2 linked regions of the Homo sapiens genome follow. The protein of the gene in region 2 interacts with the protein of the main gene of each other region in a pairwise test. Each region holds a gene or a part of one and is shown on either strand. Other genes may lie near its edges.

Evidence for each region.
Region 1: the proteins of SCAMP4 (region 2) and EBP interact in binary tests that used the Homo sapiens proteins (3 or more experiments, as listed by UniProt).

Annotation. Positions count from the first base shown.
Region 1 is NC_000023.11:48,524,808-48,528,407, reverse strand, and holds part of EBP (3-beta-hydroxysteroid-Delta(8),Delta(7)-isomerase), read right to left. Parts: intron 1,420-3,600; coding exon 1,383-1,419; intron 1,254-1,382; coding exon 1,123-1,253; intron 175-1,122; coding exon 1-174. UniProt on the Homo sapiens protein: Isomerase that catalyzes the conversion of Delta(8)-sterols to their corresponding Delta(7)-isomers a catalytic step in the postlanosterol biosynthesis of cholesterol.
Region 2 is NC_000019.10:1,915,255-1,919,198, reverse strand, and holds part of SCAMP4 (secretory carrier-associated membrane protein 4), read right to left. Parts: intron 1,506-3,944; coding exon 1,377-1,505; intron 1,073-1,376; coding exon 916-1,072; intron 311-915; coding exon 209-310; intron 1-208. UniProt on the Homo sapiens protein: Probably involved in membrane protein trafficking.

The sequences.
Region 1 (3,600 bases), on a different chromosome or scaffold from region 2:
GGGCATGAGTGAGGTGCTTCACAGCATCAAGCACAAGGACTCCAGGCAGCACCAGCCACAGGGCATTCATGAAGACAAAGTAAAACCAGAAGTAGAGAGGGTGGCCCAGCTCTCCGTGCTGGAATCCGTCGCGGTGCTCTGTCAGGAAGTAGAGCACATCCCCATAGATCTGGCCTGTGGGTGGCAGGAGGGGAAGGAGAAGCCCCAGTGAGGAAGGGGACACTTTCGCCAATTCTCTATTCCAAAGCACTTTCCAAGTCATCATTCAAGGTCTCAGAGCTAAGTATTCTGAAATCACAGAGCTGAAAATCTGAGAAATCAGAAAAGTGAGATTCCAGACACCAGAGAGCTGAGAATTTCAGAACTCAGGAGAGCTCACACCTTCAGATTTAAGGAAGTTCAAAATCCTCAAATCCAAGACAGCTTAGGATTCTGGGACTAAAGATAACTCATATCGCTAGAACTAAAGAAAGCTAACAATTTAATAACACAAGATGACTGAGGCCGGGCACAGTGGCTCACACCTGTAATCCCAGTACTTCGGGAGGCCAAGCCAGGAGGACTGTTTGAGCTCAGGAGCTTGAGACCAGCCTGGGCAACATGGCGAAACCCCATCTCTACTAAAAATACAAAAGTTAGCCAGGCACGGTGGCACATGCCTGTAGTCCCAGCTACTCAGGAGACTGAGGCAGGAAGATCGCTTGAGTCTGGGAGGTGGAGGTTGCAGTGAGCCGAGATCACACCATAGCACTCTGGCCTGGGTGACAGAGCCAGACCCTGTTTTAAAAAAAATATGACAGAATCTTACATGAAGGGATCTCAGAGCCCTGATCCTGGAGGTTCCAGGGGCTTCTTGCCACCCTGGGCCACCTCATGTAACCTTCACAGGAGACTTTGTGATGGAGAAGGAGGAGGAGGAAGAAAAATGAACCCTCCCCACCTGAGAGTGCAGGCTCAGAGAAGGGCATGACCTTTCCAGAGCCTCAGGGGGTTTGTCATTCAGTCTGACTTACCCCTGGAAGGGCACCGTTGAGAGATCCCACCCACAGGGATACATCTGTGTCTGTGGATCCCCCATCAACCCCTCTAGTGCCCAGTGCCCCTCTAGTGCCCTTTCCTTACCCACAGAGACCACAAGCTGTAGAATGAAGCGGAGGGGATGCTGGCGGAGAAAGGCGATCACCACCCACAGGCTGAGTGGTCCCCACAGGCAAGCTGTGATGGTTTCCATGCACACTGTGAAGTTGTCACCCCTGCAGGAGAAAGCATGAGGGGACACTGGTATCGGTGTGCTCTTCCTACAGGTTAGCCCATTAGTGCTCCCCAACTCACCACCCCCCGAAAACCAATGCCAGTCTCCATTGACAGAGGCAAACACTTACAGGATGTATCGGCTGTCTCCCTTGGCATACTCTTTCCCTGAAGAAAAGAAGAGAGAGATATGAAGAATAAAGGCAGTGAAAGGAACACACACTTGTGAGAGCTGGGGGTCCCTGCAAGAAGACAGACTTCATAACCTTCCCATGCGTCTGCTTCCTCATCCGTGAAATGGGGTAACTGTTTGGATTCTAGTGGTTTATTTCTCTAAAACAAGGTAATATGTGTAAAGCCTGACACAAAACAGTGTGGCTGTGATTGGTACTCAAGAAGTGTGTGTGGTATAAAAGGAAGCAGGTGTAGATGATGGAGTGAGTGAAGTAGCCAATGAGAGAGAGAGAATGTAGGTGAACAGATGAGTGAATACAAGAGTGAGCAGAGAATCAGAAAGAAAAAGACCGCCGGGCACGATGGCTCATGCCTGTAATCCCAACACTTTGGGAGGCTGAGGTGGGATGATGGCTTGCATAAAGGAGTTCAAGACCAGTCTGAACAATATAGTGAGACCCCCAACTCTATAAAACATACAAAAATTAGCTGGACGTGGTGGCACGTGCCTACAGTCCCAGGCTGCAGTGGGAGGATGTCTTGAGCCCAGGAGGTTGAGGCTGCAGTGAGCTATGATAGCACCACAGTGCTCAGCCTGGACAACAGGGTAAGACCCTGTCTCAAAAAAAAAAAAAAAAAAGAAAGAAAGAAAAAGATCATCCAATATAAAATAGGCAGAAGACTTGAATAGGTTCTTCACAAAGAGGATTTCTAAATGGCCAATAAGTATATGAAAGATGTTCAAACTTCCATTAGTCACTAAGGAAAAGCAAATTAAAACCATAATGAGATATCACTCACATCTACTGGAATGACTAAAATTTAAGAAACATCTGACCAGCCGGGCACAATGGCTCATGCCTGTAATGTTTTTTTTTTTTTTTTTTTTTTTTGAGACGGAGCCTTGCTCTTATCGCTCAGGCTGGAGTGTGCAGTGGCGCAATCTCAGCTCACCACAACCTCCGCCTCCCAGGTCCCAGAGATTCTCCTGCCTCAGCCTCCTGAGTAGCTGGGATTACAGGCACCTGCCACCACGCCCAGCTAATTTTTAGACTTTTAGTAGAGACGGGGTTTCACTATGTTGGCCAGACTGGTCTCAAACTCCTGACCTCAGGTGATCTGCCCGCCTTCGCCTCACAAAGTGCTGGGATTACAGGCATGAGCCACTCTGCCCGGCCTTGTTTATAATGGCAGAAGATTGAGGGAAAATGCCCATCAATACTACACAAGTCAAGCAACTGTACAATGTCCATGCTTTGAAAGCTCTTTATGAAATCATGAGGAGTGACCTCATTAAAAAAAGCAGCTGGGTGCGGTGGCTCATGCTTGTAATCCTAGCACTTTGGGAGGCTGAGGTGGGCAGATCACTTGAAGCCAGGAGTTGGAGAACAGCCTGGGCAACAAAGCAAGACGCCATCTCTTAAAAAAAAAAGTTGTTAAAAAAAAAATAACTTGGTGGGGTGGCACATGCCTATAATCCCAGCTACTAGGGAGGCTGAGGCAGGAGGATTGCTTGATTGCCCAGGAGTTCAAGGTTGCAGTGAGCTATAATCATGCCACTGCACTCTAGCCTGGGTGACAGAGCGAGACCCCGTCTCAAAAAAGAAAATGGCTTCTTTGGTTTTCTTGTAAGGAAAGAAAGAAAAAGAGAAAAGATTAGAAGTATATATAGCATATTACCATTTGTGTAAAAAGGGAAAAGTGCAAATAATGATAATAATAGTGAACAGTTACATGGCAACCACTGTTTGCCAAACACTGTTCTAAGTATCTTACATATAGTTGGTTATTACTATTATCCTCCTTTTACAATTGAGCAAATTGAGACTTACGTGTGTAAATAAACTGAAAAGAAACATAAACAACTATCAACAGTGCCTAACAGCGTTTGGGGAAACTTAGTGGATAGAAAGCAGATTTTCACTGCAAATCTCTTTAAATGGTTTTTTGACCCACGTGAATATACATGCAACAAAAAAGTTAAATAAGGCTGGGCACGGTGGTGCGCACCTGTCATCCCAGAATTTTGGGAGGCTGAGGTGGAAGGATTGCTTGAGCCCAGGAGTTAAAGAACAGCCTGAGCAACATAGCAAGACCTTGTCTCTACAAAAAAGTGAAAATATTAGCCAGGCATAAAGGTGTGCACCTATAGTATAGTCCCAGCTACTGGGGAGG
Region 2 (3,944 bases):
TACAATCGCGAACCATGGCTGGGTGCTGGCGAGGACGCGGGCGCTGGCGAGGACGCGGGCGCTGCCAGGGTGAGCTCAGACCCCTCCCTAGGAGAGCGCGTACAATCCCGGACCAGCACGCTCCGGTGGCCGCCTGGCTTCCCAGCAGGCCCACAACCTGGCAGCTGAGCCACATCACAGCCACCACGCCCATCAGAGAGAGGCTTACCACGCGCCCCAGCCGGAGAAGCCAATCGCCTGGATGACGGTCAGGACAAACTGGGCTCCGAAGATGAAGAAAAACGCCATGAAATTAAAGGAGCTGTCGGCTCTGGGGAGGGACAGAAAACACGACGGTTACCACAGCCCTGGCTTCTCCCAGACGCGCCTAGAGAGGAACGGGCCAGTCAGAGATGGTGAGAGCGGAGGCTCTATTTTATTCCTTTTTTTTTTTTTTTGAGATGGAGTCTCACTCTGTCGCCCAGGCTGGAGAGCAGTGTCGAGATCTCGGCTCACTGCAACCTCTGCCTCCCGGGTTCAAGCGATTCTCTTGCCTCAGCCTCCTGAGTAGCTGGGATTATAGGCGCCCGCAACCACGCCTGGCTAATTTTTGTACCTATAGTAGAGACAGCGTTTCACCATGTTGGCCAGGCTGGTCTTGAACTCCTGACCTCAGGTGATCCGCCTGCCTCGGCCTCCCAAAGTGCTGGGATTATAGGCCTGAGCCACTGCACCCAGCCAAAATTACTAGAAAGCAAAACAAAACAGACAGTAGTTGGCTCTGGCTTGTGGGCCACAGTTTGCCACCCCCAGATGTGAACTGTCTTTCACACTGGGCAGAGAAAGGGACAGCTCCTCACAGCTGGGCTGGGACTGGGGTGCAGAGTGGGCCCTGGTTCCCTCTGGGTGCAGACGGCCCCCGGCAGCTCTGCTCACCGGAAGGCCTTGTAGACAGGCCGGAACCAGCACACGTAGCCGCAAGGCGTGAACAGGAGCAGCCACACGAAGGCCAGGCCGAAGTTGGTCCCCGAGCCTCCGCCGATCCACCAGGCCAGGCAGGCAATGAGGTTGACGCCGAGGGTGGCGCAGTAAACTGCGAAGAGAGAGGGAGGACGGATGAGCAGGCACGGGAGGGTGTGGCCGTGGGAAAGCATGGGCCCAGCAATGGGGCACCCGCTGTCCGCCTCCCCAGCCCAGTGACCCCATGTCGAGGATGAACTGTGCAAGCCAAGACACTGGGGCCTGGACACCAGCCTCGTTCACCGCAGGGACCACCAGGCCCAGGACGGCTTCAGTAGACGGTGGGCCCCCGACGGGCTGCCCCTGCCTGAATGCCACTCCCTCCCTCGGGGAGCCCTGCCTCCCGCTTCCCGCCTCCTGCCCCCAGGCGCACTCACACATCCACAGCCGGTAGATCCTCTTCACCAGGACCTGGTGCTCCACTGGGATCTCGTCGGAGAAGTTCTGGTAGAAGCAGGGCTTCACAGGGATGAACTTGGGCAGTGGCGGGAAGTTGTTCTCCTTTTCTGTAGGGACAGAGAACCCACGGACAGAACCAGACTTTGTCTCTTGAAGGAGGCCCCACCTCATCCCTTCGACCCAAGGCTGGGTTGCCTCTCATGGCAGAAGGGACTCTGCAGTTGGGATTGAGGGCAGGACGCTGAGACAGGAGAGGGTCCTCGTGGCAGCCTCACGAGAGGAGACGGGAGGGTGGGAGTCAGAGAGAAACGGGAAGAGGCTGCGCTGAGGCTGTGAAGGGGGAGAAAGGGGCCCTGAGTGGAGGGATGGGGGCGCCTCTAGACGCTGGGCAAGGCGGGAACCGGCCTACAGCTTGATGTTAGCGTTTCTGGTCTCCAGAACTGTCAGATAACTGATTTCACTGTTTTAAGGAACTAAGTTTATGACTCTTTTTTTGAGACGGAGTCTCGCGCTGTCTCCCAGGCTAGAGGGCAGTGGTGCGATCTCGGCTCACTGCAGCCTCTGCCTCCCAAGCTCAAGTGATTCTTCTGCCTCAGCCTCCCAAGTAGCTGGGATTACAGGCGCCCACCACCACACCCGGCTAATTTTTGGATTTTTCTTTTTAGTAGACACGAGGTTTCACCATGTTGGCCAGGCTGGTTTTGAACTCCTGACCTCAAATAATCCGCCCACCTCTGCCTCCCAAAGTGCTGGGATAACAGGCGTGAGCCACCGCGCCCGGCCGAAATTGTTTTTTAAATTTACGTGTCACCCTTCATGCAGGGCCCTGCTACTCTTCGTAGCCCTCCTCCATGTTTAGTGTGGGTGCGGCTGCAGCAGGCTGCATTTAGTATCATTCCCTCCGGCAGGCAGGGACGCCAACATGCAGGCTCAGCAGGCCGAGTCCGCACACTGCGGGGAGGCTGTGGCCTGGGGACGCTTCCGTTCCCCATGGCTGCTGTGAGAAACCACCACCGACTGGGAGGCTTAGAACAACAGAAACTGCCCAGGTGTGGGGGCTCCCACCTGTGATCTCAGCACTTTTGGAGGCTGAGGCAGGAGGGCTGCTGGAGCCCAGGAGTTCCAGATCAGCCTGGCAACCTAGCGAGACCCCAACTCTACAAAAACTACAAAAATTAGCCAAGCGTGGTGGTGCGTGCCTGTGGTCCCAGCTTCTCGGGAGGCTGAGGCAGGAGGATCGCTTGAACCCAGGAAGTTAAAGCTGCAGTGAGCTATGATCACACCACTGCACTCCAGCCTGGGAGAGACCCAGACCCTGTCTCAAAACAAAACAAAGAACACAACAAATATTTATCTGCTAACAGTCCTGGAGGCCAGAAATCTGAGATCAAGGTGTCTCAGGAACGCGCTCCCTCTGCAGGCTCCGGGGAAGGAGCCTTCCTGCCTCTCTCAAGCAGCTTCTGGGGGATCCCAGCGCCCTTGGCTCATGGCCGCATAGCTCTGGCCTCTGCCTCCATCTCCACGACGACTCCTCCTGTATCTCCATGTCTTTTTTTTTTTTTTGAGATCCAGTCTCACTCTGTCACCCAGGCTGGAGTGCAGTGGCGTGATCTCGGCTCACCACAACTCCGCCTCCCAGGTTCAAGCGATTCTCCTGCCTCAGCCTCCCAAGTAGCTGGGACTACAGGTGCTGTGCCACCATGCCCAGCTAATATTTTTAGTAGGGATGGGGTTTCACTATGCTGTCCAGGCTGGTCTCAAACTCCTGACCTCATCATCTGCCCACCTCGGCCTCCCAAAAGTGCTGGGATTACAGGCGTGAGCCACCACGCCCGGACCATCTCTTTTTTTTTTTTCTGAGACAGTCTCGCTCTGTCACCCAGGCTGGAGTGCAGTGGCCCGATCTCGCTCACTGCAAGCTCCGCCTCCCGGGTTCACACCATTCTCCTGCCTCAGCCTCTCGAGTAGCTGGGACTACAGGCACCCGCCACCACGCCCAGCTAATTTTTTGTATTTTTAGTAGAGACGGGGTTTCACCGTGTTAGCCAGGATGGTCTCGATCTCCTGACCTCGTGATCCACCCGCCTCGGCCTCCCAAAGTGCTGGGATTACAGGCGTGAGCCACCGTGCCCGGCCTCCATCTCTTCTTATAAACACAGCAGGCACTGGGATGAGAGCTCGCCCTGCTCCAGTACTTTATCTTAACTCCATCACGTCCGGAGTTAAGGCCATATTCCCAAATGAGGTCCCACTCACAGGTTCCAGGGATCAAGATGGGAACACAGCCTTTGGGGCACTCAGCGTGGCACTGGGAGCCCCCCAGGAGCTTCTGCTCAGCCAGCACTGCCTGAGGAAGTGTCCCTGGGCGCCTGCGAGGGCCAGATGGGGAGTCAGACAGCAAGAGGCCCTGTCCTCAGGGGCTTACGCCCCACTGGGGAAGGCTGCCAGTAAATGAGTGGGTGAGGGACCCCGGGGCACATGAGAACACGCCCGCTGCTATAAGGAAAGAGCAGCTGTGATGGCAGGGGCACCCGGCTGGGCTGTGC